Regions from separate parts of the Homo sapiens genome. Here region 1 is linked to region 2. The links come from fine-mapping of genetic effects on gene expression. A gene starts in region 2. The other region holds a variant in brackets. All regions are shown on one strand. Distances are between the middles of the regions.

Region 1 (8,000 bases), 30 kb after region 2:
GACAAACAAGAAATACTTTTTTGATATAAGTATGTCTCAAATATTGCATGGGGCATCCTATGTTTTTATTTGTTAAATCTGGTCATTTTAACTAGGTTTGCAATATATTTTCAGCACAATTTCAACAGTTCATATTTGCTGAGTACTTTGGGCATGATGGTTAGAGTCAGAGGTGACTTTAGGAGCTGCAGGCCTTGTGTGTGTCCCTTTCACCACTATCCCCACAGCCCCAAGTACAATCTTTGGCATATAGTTGAGCTCAATAAATATATTTTGAAAAAATTAATCAAAATGATAAAATAAGTATGGACTATGACTAACTGATGATGCTTATGACGTAGGTGGGAATACAGGCTCCTATATTAAAAAAGTTATTGTGGCTAATACTATCTTATTTTGGATTTTAACTGGTTAATTTGCTTAATAGACTAGCCCACTTGGTTGAAGGATTCAAATTCTAAATATACGAAAGGTTATTTCCATTTCAAAAAGTGATGCAGAAAGACAAATAGCATGTTCTCTCACTCATATGTGGATTCTAAAGATGACCGCATAGAAATAGAGAGTAGAATAGTGGTTACCAGAGGCTGGTAACGATAGAAGGGAAGGGAGGATGAATACAGTTACATAGGAGGAATAAGTCCTGGTGTTCCATTGCACAGTGAAGTGCCTATAGTAGCTAGAAGAGAGGATGTTGAATGTTCTCAGCATGAAGAAATGATAAGTGTTTGAGGTGATGGAATGCTTACCCTGATTTCATCATTACACAAGGTATACATGTATCGAAATATCACCTTGTACTTCATATATATGTACAGTTATGTCTCAATTAAAAATTTAAAAAACTCTTAAAAAGAAAAAAGAATCAAGAGAGAAGAATACAAAAAATGATGATTAAGTGGAAATTAAACCATAGTTTTATCTGGATTTGATGTAATTTTTTAAATGATTTGATTTAGACTGTGCTATTGGACAATGCCACCTATTTTCTTTCATATACACTTTTATTCTAATGTTCTAATCAATTAAGTCCTGTATATTTAATATTCATTTCTGTCAGGGTTGAATTTGATCCAGGAGAAATGGATGTGTACTAACTAGTCAGGTGTAACTGGAATCTTACTATAAAGTAAAAATTATTGTAGGCCTTCTAAGGAATTTATAATTCATTAAAATACATATAATAACACTAAAAAGCTAATTAATATATAATATTCTAGTTAAAAATTAGGCATATATGACTATATGCAATAGTGTGGAAAACAATTAGGCATGGAAATTATTGTTAGAGTTTATTATTTTTCAAAAGATAATGATAAAACACACCTGTAAATTTAATATAATTATAAATTCGTCAAATCTCAGGATGGTAAAACCTTAAATATACCATTTGTAACTGACATTATGTATTCTCTTTCTTCTTCAGAGGAAAACCCTGAAGAACTATGGAAATTTCTTTTTTATTTTATTTATTTATTTATTTATTTATTTATTTATTGAGACTAAGTCTCACTCTGTCACCCAGGCTGGAGTGCAGTGGTGGGATCTCTGCTCACCTCAAGCTCCGCCCCCCGGGTTCATGCCGTTCTCCTGCCTCAGCCTCCCCAGTAGCTGGGACTACAGGCGCCCGCCACCACGCCTGGCTAATTTTTTTGTATTTTTAGTAGAGACGGGGTTTCACTGTGTTAGCCATGGTCTCGATCTCCTGACCTCATGATCCTCCCGCCTCGGCCTCCCAAAGTGCTGGGATTACAGGCGTGAGCCACCAAGGCCGGCAGAACTATGGAAATTTCTAAGAAACAAAAACCCAAACAGTCCTTCTTATTCAGACTTCTTTGTAAAACCGACCAAAATAACTCTCTCTTTTTCTTAATTGCTTGAAGTGATACTCACATTCAGTTCCACTAGTTGTCTCTAAGCAGTGGTATAACCAGAATAATTGGAGTCCCACCTGAAAGAAAAGATGGATAAATTTAACTACCTTAAAAAAAAAAACTGTATGGAAAGCAACTCCATAAACAAGTCAGAAACAACATTATTCACAAAGTTAAGGAATAAAGAACCAGGGGTCAGGGCCGGGGCCAGTTGCGGTGGCTCACGCCTGTAATCCCAGCACTTTGGGAGTCCAAGGCGGGTGGATTACCTGAGGTCGGGAGTTGGAGATCAGCCTGACCAACATGGAGAAACCCCGTCCCCACTAAAAATACAAAATTAGCCGGGCATGGTGGCACATGCCTGCAATCCTAGCTACTCGGGAGGCTGAGGCAGGAGAATTGCTTGAAACTGGGAGGCAGAGGTTGTGGTGAGCCGAGATCATGCCACTGCACCCCAGCCTAGGCAACACGAGCAAAACTCCATCTCAAAAAAAAAAAAAAACAAAAAAAACCCACAAAGAACTTGTGGCCTGGGGGACAGGCGCAGTGGCCCAGGCCTGTAATCCCAGCACTTTGGGAGGCCGAGGCAGGTGGATCACCTGAAGTCAGGAGTTCGAGACCAGCCTAACATGGTGAAACCCCGTCTCTACTAAATACAAAAAATTAGCCAGGCGTGGTGGCGCATGCCTATAATCCCAGCTACTTGGGAGGCTGAGGCAGGAGAATCGCTTGAACCTGGGAGGTGGAGGTTTGCGGTGAGCCGAGATCGTGCCATTGCACTCCAGCCTGGGCAACAAGAGCGAAACCTTGTCTCAAAAAAAAAAAAAAAGAAAAAAAAAAAGAACTGGGAAGATTACATAATATCTTCAGGGCTCCTGCAAATTATAAGAAAAGACCAATAATGGAATAGAACAAGGGGTAAAGAGTATGAATGAGAGTCCAAAAAAGAAAAAGGAAAAAATACAAACAGTCGTAGACATAATAAAAGGTGTAAGGTGTACAATATAGCTTATAATAGAAATTTAAACTAAAATCACATTGAAATACCATTGTTCATTCATCAGATTGGTAGAAATCCAAAAGTCTTGATATACTCTGTGGCAATGCTGTTGGGAACTGAAACTCCCATCCATCGCTGGTAGGAGTATAGATTGGTGTAATATTCTATAATGGACAATTTAGTTATATCTATTGATATGACAGATGTTCATACTGATTGACCTAGTAATCCACGTCTAGCAATTAATCCCACAGATATATTTTCACATGCAAAAAATTAAGTATAAGGTTATTAATTATTGCAATGTTTGTAATAATAAAAGACTGGAAATCATCCAAGTATTCATCAAAAAAGAGCTAGTTAAATATATATTCATACACCGGAACATTATGCAAGGGTAAAATGAATGAGAAAAC[C/T]CTCTGTACTGATGTGGAAAGATTTGCCAAGACAGATCTGAAAAAGGTGTGTAATAGTGTGGAAAGGAGGATTAAGCAAATAAATGCCTATTTTAAAATTTATGCATAAAAAACTGACAGAGCATGTAAGGAACGAATAGAAATGACCATCTACTTTTAGAAGTGAGGAGGAGGGAGGCTAGAGAGATGGGGGCGGAGGCAGAAGTGGCAGCATGGCTTCTGCATACCTGCTTGTGTATATATCTTTTCAGTTTTTGAGCCATGTGGATGTGACTTATGCAATAATTAAATAATTAAGAAGAATATAGCATGAGCTAGGTCCAGAAGCCAGAGAGAACAGGGATATCTGGGGGAATTTCAGGGGTTAGATTGATAGGTGTGCAGAATGTGAAGGTGGAGTGGTAAGAGATGAGATGAAAAGACCCATTTTAATTATCATTAAAAACAACTATTTTTCTTTTTCTAACATTTATTGAGAGCTTAACTAAGAGCCAGACCCTGTGCTTTTATGTACATTTCCTCATTTAATCCTCATAACAGTTCAGTAAGGCTGCAGCTGTTATTACAATCATTTTATAAGTGAAGGAACAGAGAGGTTAAGTAATTTACTTAAGGGCATACAGCAGTTGGCCACTGGTGGAATCAGTATGCACAACCCATCATGACCCTGTGTTCATGCTCTTAACTTTTGTACCATTCTGCTTGTTCAAGGGAACATACATCCAACTGAGGGAGGTGGGGTGAGGGGCAAGAGTTTCTATCTTTCTACACAGTGAATTTTATTAATTCTGTAGAGCTCATCTTACAGTACTACCAAGTATGGCTGCCCCCAAATCTGTGACTCAGCCAAGATTATTTTTAAATATTTCCCATTCTTATGACCTATCCACCACTTTGGCACCTATCCTCTTCCAAGACTATCTCAGCATCTGGCTCGCTACCTTTGACCATAACAAACATTTGAATAACAAACCAAGTTTATGAAGTATCATGGGCATGACAAATTAGTTTAAGAAACATTCATTCAGTAAATTTTGAACCCCCATAGTATTCCAGGCATACAGATTCAAAGATAAACGTGAGCAAAGCAGCCTCTCTGGTGTTCCCATCTGGTGAAGAAGGCCGACATGTCAGCAAAAATCCATATTTAACCTACGTTCTCTTATATTGGTTAGTGTTACCTAGATTTGCCTAAGCATTAAAATCACTTGAGACACTTAAAAAAAAAAAAAGGCAACAACATAAAAACCCTAGTTTCTTGGGCCCTACCGCCGACCACTTGAATGAGAATTTCCTGGGGATGGTCCTGGGAATGTGTATTTTTAACAAGTGCCCATGAGAGTCTTAAATTAGGTAAGTTTGGGAAATGAGATATCAGTAGAAACAGGATACTGTGGGGTCAGAGGAGGAAGTTGCTCAGTCTGTCTGTAGGTGGGAAGATTAGCCAAAGCCTCACAGCAATGTTTAGGCCACACCTTAATGAGTGAGTAAGCACCCAAGGAGAAAGGACTTTCCAAGCAAGGAGAATTTTAAAAATTAGCCAGGTATGGTCGGTGCACACCTGTAGTCACAGCTACTTGGAAGGCTGAGGTGGGAAGATCACTTGAGTTCAGTGAGCCATGAACATGCCACTGCACTGCAGCCTGTGTGACAGAGTAAGCAAGACCCTGTCTCTAAAAAAAATAAAATTAAAGGGAATTTTACTCTACTGGCAAAGAAGAGAATGGCTTCATGGAAGAGAGGGAGTCCAGTTCAAAGGCTGTCAGGAAGACTTCTGGGAGCAATTAGCTAACTAACAGTGATGGAATGGCGTTTAGCTGAAATTTGCAAGACTTGATAGATTAATTTTTTTAATGAAGGAGACAAGCAATAGGATGGCTCCTAGCTTACAAAATGGGGAGAAGTGTGGGTCATCGCTAGTGGTGAGGAATATGGGAAAAGGAGCAAAGGGTGATGATAGGAAGATGAATTCCATCTTGATCCTGCTGAGTTTCAGTGGCTCTGGGGGGAATCATACCTACTAGGCATTTGGATATCTGAAGATAGAGATTTGGGAGCCCGCAGCATATGGATGGTAGACAAAGCCTTGGAAGCAGGTACAAATCACTGAGGGGTGTAGGGAGGAAGAGTAGAAGAGTGCTGAAGGCAGAGCTATGGATCCCTGACCCTAAAGAGAGATGGAGGAAGAGAGGAATATGGCAAGGAGTCTATGGAAGAGCGATGAGAAGACAGAAAAGCTCTGAGAGAGAACATTATCTTGGAAGCTGAAGAGAGAGTTTTCCAGAAAAAGAGTGGTCAATGGGAAGAAATGGAAGAGAGATGCTGTTTTAGAGATTATTGGCTGCTTGTTGTTTCTGCTTCTAATGCCTTGGTTTGCCAAATCCAGTCCAGATTCTACATGAATCTCCAGTTAAATGGTCAACCATATAACTGACAGGTTGTCTGATTTTATACAGCTTAAATTCCTAAGAGAATCTAATGGGTTCATCCTGTGTGTTGATTTCACTTGGGTCAACCTAGTGCAATAAGCCATTTTATAGGGAGGGTAGCCCGCGAGGTTGAGTCTGTAGCTGTGGCTGAGCAGATCACTGAGTGTGCAGGGGAAAGAGGATAAACACTGAAGATCTTGCCAATAATCATCATAACAACCCCCAATGTTGATTAGGCACTGTTTTAAACACCTTACACGTGGTAATTCATTTAATCTGTTTGAATATAATGGTGAGCATGGAAGTCATATTACAGTGAATTGAGTCCTCTACTACTAATAATGACAGTAAGTCTCTAGAAAGGCGTTAATCTGACTCTTCCAAAAATGCCCTTTGCTTTGCTCTCCCTTAAAAGGGCAGAATCCTTCCCTGGGTCCACTTTTGATGACTGGGTGGGAGACTGTGCCTTCTGATCAAGTTTCCTGAGTTCTTTTAATGGAATCATCAGAATATCACACATAAAATGAGGCCTTGAGCCAGGCTGGCATGGCCACACTGAAGTCCTGTGATTCTGTTTACCTGAGAGCATGATGAGTTTATTGGTCTTTCTTAGCCTTAGGAATCTGCCTTTCCAGTGCATGGTGTTTAGACAGAGTAGCAGCTGAATGAATTTTGAATTTAATTGTTCCCCAGCAGAGAGTGAACAACCTTTGCATATGCCAGCTTTTTGTGTAGACTTTTCAGAATGGTGATTTCAGGTCATTTCCAACCGAAGGACTCTTTCAGTTCATAATAACACATATTTTAATTAGCTATCTTTGGATTGTTCATATTTGTGGAGGAAGAAGCAGTGGAATAACCTACTTGAGAATGTGCTCAGAGCATGTGGCGCGTTTGACATACAAAAGCACTGTATTAAATAAGTGTCCAGTTCGGTCGTTTATTTAGATTTAGTTGATAACTTGGATTTCAGCACTAACTGAAATGCATTGGTTCACATTAGCTTAATCAATTCTCATAGAATATGGAGAGCTCACCAGAACTATAATTACAACAGCACATAATTATTTGATGCTGATTTCAAAGGATATTTTACAAATGCATTTGTGAATGGTAGTTCGTTCTTTTAAACGTTTGGACTGCTTTGGCTTTTTCTGTGGTGGGGCCTAGAAGAAGACAGGTCACAGCAGGTCTCACTTGAAGAAATCTTTAACACAGAACATAAAAGTGACTGTAACTAAAGTTTGGAACATGTCATTTTACTGAGTACTGACACTAGAGGAGTTTGTTTAAGGATATTCACATCAGTTAACAAATCAACGAAACGTTTATTAAACTTCTGTTACTCATTCAACAAATATGTAATGAATACCTACTATAAGTCCAAGTATTCCACATCATCTCTTTTCATCCTTGCAAACATTAGCAGGAACTATAATCCCACAATTTTATGAGATGTAGAGAGGTCAGGCTTAGCTTGCTCAAGGTTCTAGTGGAGGCAGAATTTGAACTGCTTCCAAACTGTCCAACATTAAAATCTATATTACTTCCTCTTAGCTGGATCTTATCAGGAAATCAAAGCTGTATAAGCTATGGCCCCTTCTGTGTGGGGTTGACAATGACATCTAAAACATCAGACTTAAGTCTATAAATCTAGAAAACATAAGGCATAAGTCTACACCACCCAGGCAAAGTGCCACAGGATCTCATAGCTACAGGAGTTTAGGAAAGAAGCATCAAGGAAGGCAGCCAGCACCCATGGGGTTTGTGCTGCTTGGAGAACAGGTGGTATGTGGATAGTTGAGGGCATGGAGAGATGATTCCAGTGGGAAGAGCTGAATGAGAAAAGGTGCAAAACCAGAATGACCAAGCTGTGTCCAGGAAATCATAAACAGACCTGCTGCTGAGAACAAAAGTTCTGTTATCTGAGAGTAGAAAATATGGCTGAAAGGTAAATGGAACCGGCTTAGCGGAGGGCCTTAAGTTCCAAGCTAAGGATTAGGACTTTGTTCTGTGGTTTATAGGAAGTGATTACAAGTTTTGGATATAAAAGTAACATGATTTAAGGGTGTTTTAGAAAATTAACCTGATTGTCAACTGGAAAAAGAGGTGATAGAGCTGGAAATCAGTAAAGGGGCTCTGGGCCAGGCAGGGAAATGATGTGATGGCTGCTTTACAACCTTGAGGAAACTCAGAAGGAGTAGGGTTCATGGGGGACTGTGTTCAGGAACAGGTCCAAAAAGTTAGGCCAGGCCAAGGGGGATATTTACGCACAGCAATG
Region 2 (8,000 bases):
TTCTTTGTATATCCTTCTCCTGTTTATTTGGAGGAGTTGACTGATTCTATCTTTTCTAAACAATATAAGGATCAACTAGCAATCACCATTTTATTAAGTTATGCAAGTGCAGACAGCTTCTGGAAGGAAGAAATGAAAATGAGATGGTGGAGAAGGGGTGGTACAGGGGAAACCTTCATGTAAATGTTATCAGTAGTATCAGGGATGATCAATTGGCACAATGTTATCTATGGTGTTTTTCAGGGAAGTCTTGGAGGGAACACTACTGAAGAAGTTACAGATTCTGTGTCTATATGAAGCAGAAGACCTCAATCCTTCCTCTGTCCCCTGAATGAGTCTTCTCCCAGTTCCTATATGTCCGAATCATAGGCTCCGAAAATTAAGTTTCTCGTTGCTCATATCTTTTCAGAAGGAATGTCCTCTCCTAAGAGCAAGAGGGTAGTGAGATGAAAAAGAAATCTATTGCCTTTAAAAGGAAAGACCCTGAGAAAATAAAAAAAGAGTGTTTTGCTTTTTAGTAAACTGCTGTGCTGAATCACGACTAAATTGGTGATCTGTGACATCAAAGGGTCATAAACAGCCTAGCTTGAGTCCAAAAGAACTGAGGCCTCCATTTTCACAGTAAAAGAATGCCTATTCCAAAATAATTTTTGAGAATGAATGAAATCTAAAACAAGATAAGCAGTCCTGTTTACAGTTATCATGGGGTATTGAAATAGTTGGCGTGGAAGTTGGGTGACTCAGTGGGCAGGACATTTGGGGTCAGAGCACTTGGGAAGTCAGGCTGACCTGCGTTAAAGCCTCAGCTCTGCTCCTAACTAGTGACTACGGTCAGATGCCCTCCCTTCCCTAAGCGCCAGTTTTACATTGCTCATATGTAAAATACAGGAATGGGGAAATTGGACAAATGATCTCACAACCTCTCCCAGATCTAAACAATCATATATTTCTTTTCCAGGAAGTAGCTTACGTATTTGTCCTTAACTTCCTGTTTCAAGAAGACAGCTTTTTGTTTTTAGATGCAATATAAAAACAAAATAACAATCACGCAAATTGCTATTTTTCTTTTTTTTTTTTTGAGATGGAGTTTCACTCTTGTTACTCAGGCTGGAGTGCAATGGCGCAATCTCGGCTCACTGCAATCTCTGCCTCCCGGGTTCAAGCGATTCTCCTGCCTCAGCCTCCCAAGTAGCCGGGATTACAGGCATATGCCATCACATCTGGCTAATTTTGTATTTTTATTAGAGACAGGGTTTCATCATGTTGGTCAGTCTAGTCTCGAACTCCTGATACCAGGTGATCTGACTGCCTCGGCCTCCCAAAGTGCTGGGATTACAGGCATGAGCCACCGTGCCAGGCCGCAAATTGCTATTTTTCAATTCACATTTACTTTACCTTTTCTTAGGGCAAGATCTGGCAGAGTCTAAGATATGGTGGAAACTAATATAAAAGGATTTTTCCAATGAAATAAGAATAGGATGTTGCTATTTAAACTTCATATACATTTAAAATGTGCTAGTTTGTATGCAGAACAGAAACTCAAACTCAGTATTTGCCCCTAGCTGCTTACATTGGAAGGCAGTGGTGGCAGTTTACTCAAAATGAGTAAGAAAATAAATCAGCTTACAACTCTAGACTGTACAGACATGCAGGCTGCCTTTTACGTTTCTGACTCCTGATTTATTTTTCTTTCCCACCTTCCCACGGCGAAGGGCAGTCAATGAATACTCAGATCAAGTGTCTGTCTGGAAAGCTGGCAGTCTTCCAGAAATACAATTAGGTATGAAAGAAAAGTCCCATCCCTCACCTCCATAGAATATTACTCCAACTCTTTCACAGCAGGAACACTAGAGTGGGAATGAGAAGTGTGGCCCTTGTGTGTTACGTTACTTCTTTTGAGAGTATGGTCATATCCATCCGTTTGTAGCATTACACAAGGAGTCAGTTAAGGTACAAGGGGTGTGAGACCCAGTGACTGCCCCCAAAGTGCTTGTCACTAGAGCTTCTCTCCCTCACCTCTACTTGGCCTTGACATTTGGGTTCGTTCAGAGGGTTGCCCCATACTGCCTTTGGGTTCGTTCAGAGGGTTGCCCCATACTGCCTTCTGGTAAAATCTTGGCGCCCTAGGCCTAAGCCTGCTCATCTTGTGCCTCCTTTTCCTCCTCCTCAGGGCCCATTCCAGTGGAACAGAAGTGCTACTTTGGGGGTGGACTGAAACAAGTTGCTGGGCTTCCATTGGCCATTGCCACTTGCTTGTCGTTGTGAGGAGGGGCCGTGCCTCCACAGGCCCATACCTGTAACCTGACGATACTGTTGTGAGCGGGAATGGAGGAAGTGCATGGAAGCCCCTCAGCACGATGCATAGTGAACAGACAAGCTGTGAACCTTGGGAGTTATCACCATGTGTGATGATGCTGGTGAAGAAAGCCTGCACTGAGGAGGCTGTCAGCCTGGGTTTGAATCCCCTCATTTGGAATATAATCTTGGCAAAGTCTGAAAGCCTCAATTGCTCGTTTGTAAAACTGGAAGATAGTAGGACTTGCTGCCCGGGGTCGGGGCAGGATGGAGGGGGCCCATGAGAATTAAGGCAGAGCCCAGCGGAGTGCATTGTAAGGATCCATGAGTGTGAACCTTCGTTTTTACTACTGCATATGAGGATCCTGCCAACAAACCTGGCGGCTTCAAGCATCCTTGCCCTTAACCAAATAAGCTCTTAGGTCCTAGAGGCAGGAAGACTTCCTTGAAGAGGCGCGGGAGGCTGGTGAGGGGAGTGGAGGACGCTCTGGGACCCTCTGGGGGTGGGGCGGGCGGGGTGAACTTGACCCCAGGCCGCGTGCCGGGCGTGCCATCTGCCGCTCCGCTGCAAGGTCTCGCCCGGGACCGGGGCTGGCGGAGCGCGCGCCCGCGAGTAGGGGCCGGGCCGGGGACCCCGCCTAGGCGGCGGCGGCCGGGTCCCCAAGGCTGGGCGCTGCTTGCGGAACCGACGGGGCGGAGAGGAGCGTGGCGGGAGGAGGAGTAGGAGAAGGGGGCTGGTCAAGGGAAGTGCGACGTGTCTGCGGAGCCTTTTTATACCTCCTTCCCGGGAGTCCGGCAGCCGCTGCTGCTGCTGCTGCTGCTGCTGCCGCCGCCGCCGCCGCCGTCCCTGCGTCCTTCGGTCTCTGCTCCCGGGACCCGGGCTCCGCCGCAGCCAGCCAGCATGTCGGGGATCAAGAAGCAAAAGACGGTAGGCTTCCAGGCGCCGGCTTCCCTCCCCGCCACCGCACTGCACGCGCCGACCCCCAACCCCCAATTCCCCGGCACTTGGGTCCCACCCTCCCCGGGAGGGGGCGTCGGGAGGAGGAGTAAGAGTGGGGCACGGAGGGAAGCAAGAGAAAGAGGCTCTGTGTGGAATTCCCGGGGCAGTCCTCGCCCCGCAGCCCCTCTCCACCCCGCGACTCTGGGAATCTGCGCTCCTTGGGGTCGCCGCGCCCGCGAGAGACCTCCCGAGCTTCTCAAGTGGGTCCGGATCTAGATCCAGGACCAGGGACAGGAAATCCCCTTTCTTTCCCAAGAGCTCTTCCAGACCCGCCTTTTCTTCTGTAGGGTCTCGGAGCAGATCGAGCTGACTCCCGTTCTGCCAGGTCTGGTCGCTGGGGTTTTGTCTATGGGAACTTCCTTGGAGTGGGCTTTAATGACGGACTTTCATAGAGGAAACTGCAATTATCAAAGCAAACTGGAGGAAATTGCATTTCTACACTGGCGGGATTTAGCCCTCTAGCTTGATTTCGGCATTGGGTGGCATCTCGAGTTCAGTAATGAGGGGTGAGGGTGCCCCTCGGTTTGGTGGAGTAAGATGAGGGGACTGTGTTGAGGAGGCACACTTTTACCCAGAATTAATAATCTGAGCTGTCCTCCTTTAATGGGAAATATGAGGGCGTGTCAAAGAGAAAAGTTTCTTTCCCAGCAACATGGGCACCTATAAATTTTGCATTCTTAAAAATGGCAGCAGTTCTATTTGTCAATTATACCCCAATAAACTGAAAAAAAAAAAAAAAAAAAAAAAAAAAAAACCGGGAGCAGTAATCATAGACTCTTAGAGTTGGATGGCGCCTTCTAGACAGCACTGGGGCCACGTCAGATGTGGTCAGCAAGCCTTGATAAAATCCTACTCAGCAGTTTGGCCGCTGAACATTCTATCTTCAGCCACCACCCTGCAAGCCTCAGATGATTGTACTGGTTACTGAATGGGTTGACCTCTCTCTAGTAGATAGACGTGCAATGGACACATAGTAGGTGCCTGATAAATGTTTATTCTTATATAATGTGTATTACCGAAATATCTTTGAGGTGTATTTGTGGTGGGCCGGGGAGAGGTTTAAAAAAAAAAACAAAATATAAAGCCAAGAAGTGGGGAAGGAGTGTGGAGGGGCCATGCAGGGCTAGAAGGGTCATTTGAGCAGCAAGAGAACAGGGTGGGGGCTCTGTGGCTCCAGGGACCATACTGGACCAGCAGGAGGGTCCAGGGTGTAGGTGGCATCAATTTGGGAAGGGACATTTATCAAAATCCAGCTGCCTTTCTCAGGAGTAATTTTTAAGTGGGGGACTCTCAGCGTTGTAACATATTTTTGAAATAATAAATGAAAATCACTTGTATTTTGTTCCTATTTAATGCGATTAATTTCTGTAAAATCCTAAATAGTGTCTTCTAAATGGCAAGCCGCTGTGCCAGTAGCTTTTTATATCAGTGGGGTTTTAATTCCCACCTTCCTGCTTGCATCAAGAATTCCTTCTCAGTTGTGATGGGGGACTTTGTCAAGCATTAGAAAGGGACGAGGTGGTCTCTCCTCTTGATGCCTCCAGTCGGCAGGAGCCCAGGAAGAGGAGGGTTTGAGAACAGGGTCATTACAAATCAATTGCGGGGGCTCTGCACAGTCAGAAGCAGTGAGAAATTTGAGGGCCGGAGGGTTTGGTTTTTGTATTTACACATTCTGAACCTTCTATTTTTTGTTAGGTGGGTGTATGTGTGTGTCTGTTTTATACAGCATTAAATTAACTCCTGAAACAGCTAACTGAAATAGAACTTTTCTGAATTTTGATTTAGTCTAACGCAGTTATAACCCAGGCACCAACCCAAGTTCCCAAAAGGGCTAGATAGGTACTATCGGTACTATTTACAGCAAGCCAGCTGTAAATGCATGTGGAATCTCTCAAGCTTTGAATGTTCATTCAAAATGTGTTTTGAAACCTTGCAGGCCAAAGCAAAATCTGTCCGCTTGTGTGACCTCTGAACTAATCAATTGTTTGATAAGTATTGCTGACCTCACAAGCTAGCCTAGGAGTGAGACTGAGCTGATCTTTTACGGTCTTATAGGAATCATCACATTGTTTACTGCACTGTCAACAGAGGACAGTTAATTCACACAGCAGCCACTACAGTAACTTCAAATATTTGTTGAGCACCTACTGTATGCCAGGTGGTATACTGGGTGGGGGAGGCGGAAAAGGAGATACCTCTTTTCCAGGTTTTTTTGGCCACACTCTCTGGATGAATATTGCCTTTCAGTTCAGACCACTCTAGGAAGAGGAGATAGTTTTGGTTTAAATGAGAGAGTGTAGGATGACTTTTTCATAAGCTTTAGAAAAAATAAATTAAGTGTTCTTTTATAAAGGAAGGTAGCACATTCCTTCTGTTTTATGCATCTTTACCATGGAAACCAAAGAAACAGCTACCAGTCACATTCATCCCTTCATCATTTCCACCCCTCACTTACCTCCAACCCTGGCTACCCTCCCACCCCCACCCCCTATACACACACATAGACACCTAGGAGAGGGAAAGGGACAGACTGCCTCTAGGGGACTGGAAAGAAGGGAAGGCAAAGGCCTGGGCCTTTCCTCTTACATCATTTCCTGGATTAACATTTTTCAAGGCCCACAGACAGTGCTGTTATGTTCTGGAGACACCCAATCTGAAAACATTGACTGAGATATTAAGTTATTTCCGAAGGATCAAATAGGAAAACAATTGGAAAGGAGTGAAAAGATACTGAAAACCACAGCGCTCTCCATAGATGTAAGGGATTATCAACCTTTTCCTTATTTATTTTCTTTCTTTCTTTTTTTTTTTGAGACAGAGTCTCACTCTGTCACCCAGGCTGGAGTGCAGTAGCGTGGCATGATCTCAGCTCACTGCAACCTCCGCCTCCCGGGTTCAAGCCATTCTCTTGCCCCAGCCTCCCAAGTAGCTGGGATTACAGGCACCACCATCATGCCCTGCTAATTACCTTTTCCTTATTTTCAGAATTGTGCACAGTATAACATTATTTTTCTAGAAGTAGCCACTTTTTTTTTTTTTTTTTTTTTTTGAGATGGAGTCTCGCTCTGTCACCCAGGCTGGAGTGCAGAGAAGCGATCTCGTCTCACTGCAACCTCCGCCTCCCGAGTTCAAGCAATTCTCCTGCCTCAGCCTCCCGAGTAGCTGGCACTACTGGTGTGTACCACCACGCCCAGCTAATTTTTGTATTTTTAGTAGAGACGGGGTTTTGCCACGTTGGTCAGGCTGGTCTCGAACTCCTGACCTCAGGTGATTCACCCACCTTGACCTTCCAAAGTGCTGGGATTGCAGGCTTGAGCCACTGCCCCCAGCCAGAAGTAATTACTTTTAAAACTATATAAAGACACTACCGAAGGCAAGACATGAATTCTAGATGAGCAACTACTGGAAGGAGGGACAAAAAGCATTTCCTAGAGGCCAGACACTCAGACATCTCATCCCCACAGTAGCTCTCATCTCAGGAAACAGCTTTGTCTTCAGGGGAGGAGAAATACCAGGGGCAGGGCACTACTGAAATTCAGGTCTGTCCAGCTTCAAAACTCATGCTCTTGACCCCCTCCGTACTTCTGTTTCAGGATGTAACTGCTCTGGCCCAAAGTTTTCTCATCTGTAAAATGTGGGTAATAATAACTTTCCCCTTACAATTGTCGTGAAAAGTAAGTAACTCCTAAAAATTGTCTTGCTCAGTGCCAGACCCAGAGTTAGTGCTTCATATGCAGTAGCTATTTCATTTGTATTAAACTATACTGTCATGGTTTGGCATACATAAAAAGAAAAAACAGCACACATCATACTGTTTTGAAGACTCAGTAAATGACAACAGCCAGAATATTTTTGTTTTGTTTTGAGACAGGCTGGAGTGCAGTGCTGCTATAATGGGTCACTGCAGTCTCGACCTCCTGGGCTCAAGTGATCCTCCTGCCTCAGCCTCCCAAGTACCTAGTACTACAGGTGCACACCATCATGCCTGGCTAACTTTTAAAGTTTTTGTTGTTGTTGTTTTGGTAGAGATGAGGTCTCACTCTGTTGCTCTGGCCAGTCTTGAACTCCTGAGCTGAAGAGATCCTCCTGCCTTGGCCTCCCGAAGTATTAGGATTGCAGGCTTGAGCCACTGTGCTTGGCCAGCCAGAATATTTAATAAGGAAAAACAAATGCAGAAATATAGAGGTGACAATTTGAATTCTTATTGTGATAGGCTGGATAGAAGACACTGGTTGACCTCTGGTAGAGGTACCAGAGTATCAGTGAGTTTTTGCCAACAACTTTGGCCAAGAAAGATAATCCATGCATAGAGTAAATATTGGACTAACTTCTCTCCACCCTTCCTGTGCCTTCAACTATTCCTATGTGCACCTTAAAATTAGTGTTTCCCAATTCATGCCATCGCCATTTATTAGATCATCTGTTTGGACTTTGGTGCGGTTAAAAGATAAATGTGGTTAACTCAGTTATATGTCTCTTTGAGATAGTTATCTTTGTCTTTTATCACTTTTCTGTTGATGCATGTGGCTCTGTGGTTTGCTGAGGGGATAATTAGGCTTACCTCTAACATGGAACTTTTAGGGAATTAGAGTCTGGGAAAGGCATCAATGATGTCAATCTCAGTCCTAGGAGATTTCTGTTTATTTCAAAATCTATCACTAAATAGTAATGGGCACTCATTAGTCTTTGTGTTTGGAAGTCTTAG

What was found. PIP is the estimated chance that this variant, and not a neighbour inherited with it, causes the effect. A credible set is the group of variants that fine-mapping cannot tell apart.
Region 1: its variant is the best candidate, but not a certain one, in a credible set for the expression of PAPSS2 in whole blood (TOPMed, PIP 0.54).

The regions. Positions count from the first base shown.
Region 1 is chr10:87,686,980-87,694,979 of GRCh38, forward strand. All of the region lies in intron 1 of PAPSS2 (3'-phosphoadenosine 5'-phosphosulfate synthase 2), which reads left to right. Among named protein-coding and RNA genes, the nearest start is that of PAPSS2, 31 kb to the left of the region's middle. The variant C/T (reference allele first, on the strand shown) is at 3,291.
Region 2 is chr10:87,656,786-87,664,785 of GRCh38, forward strand. PAPSS2 (3'-phosphoadenosine 5'-phosphosulfate synthase 2) reads left to right here and starts at 3,093. Exons shown (of 13, transcript NM_001015880.2): 1 at 3,093-3,223. The coding sequence starts at 3,197. RefSeq lists a silencer at 2,841-3,080.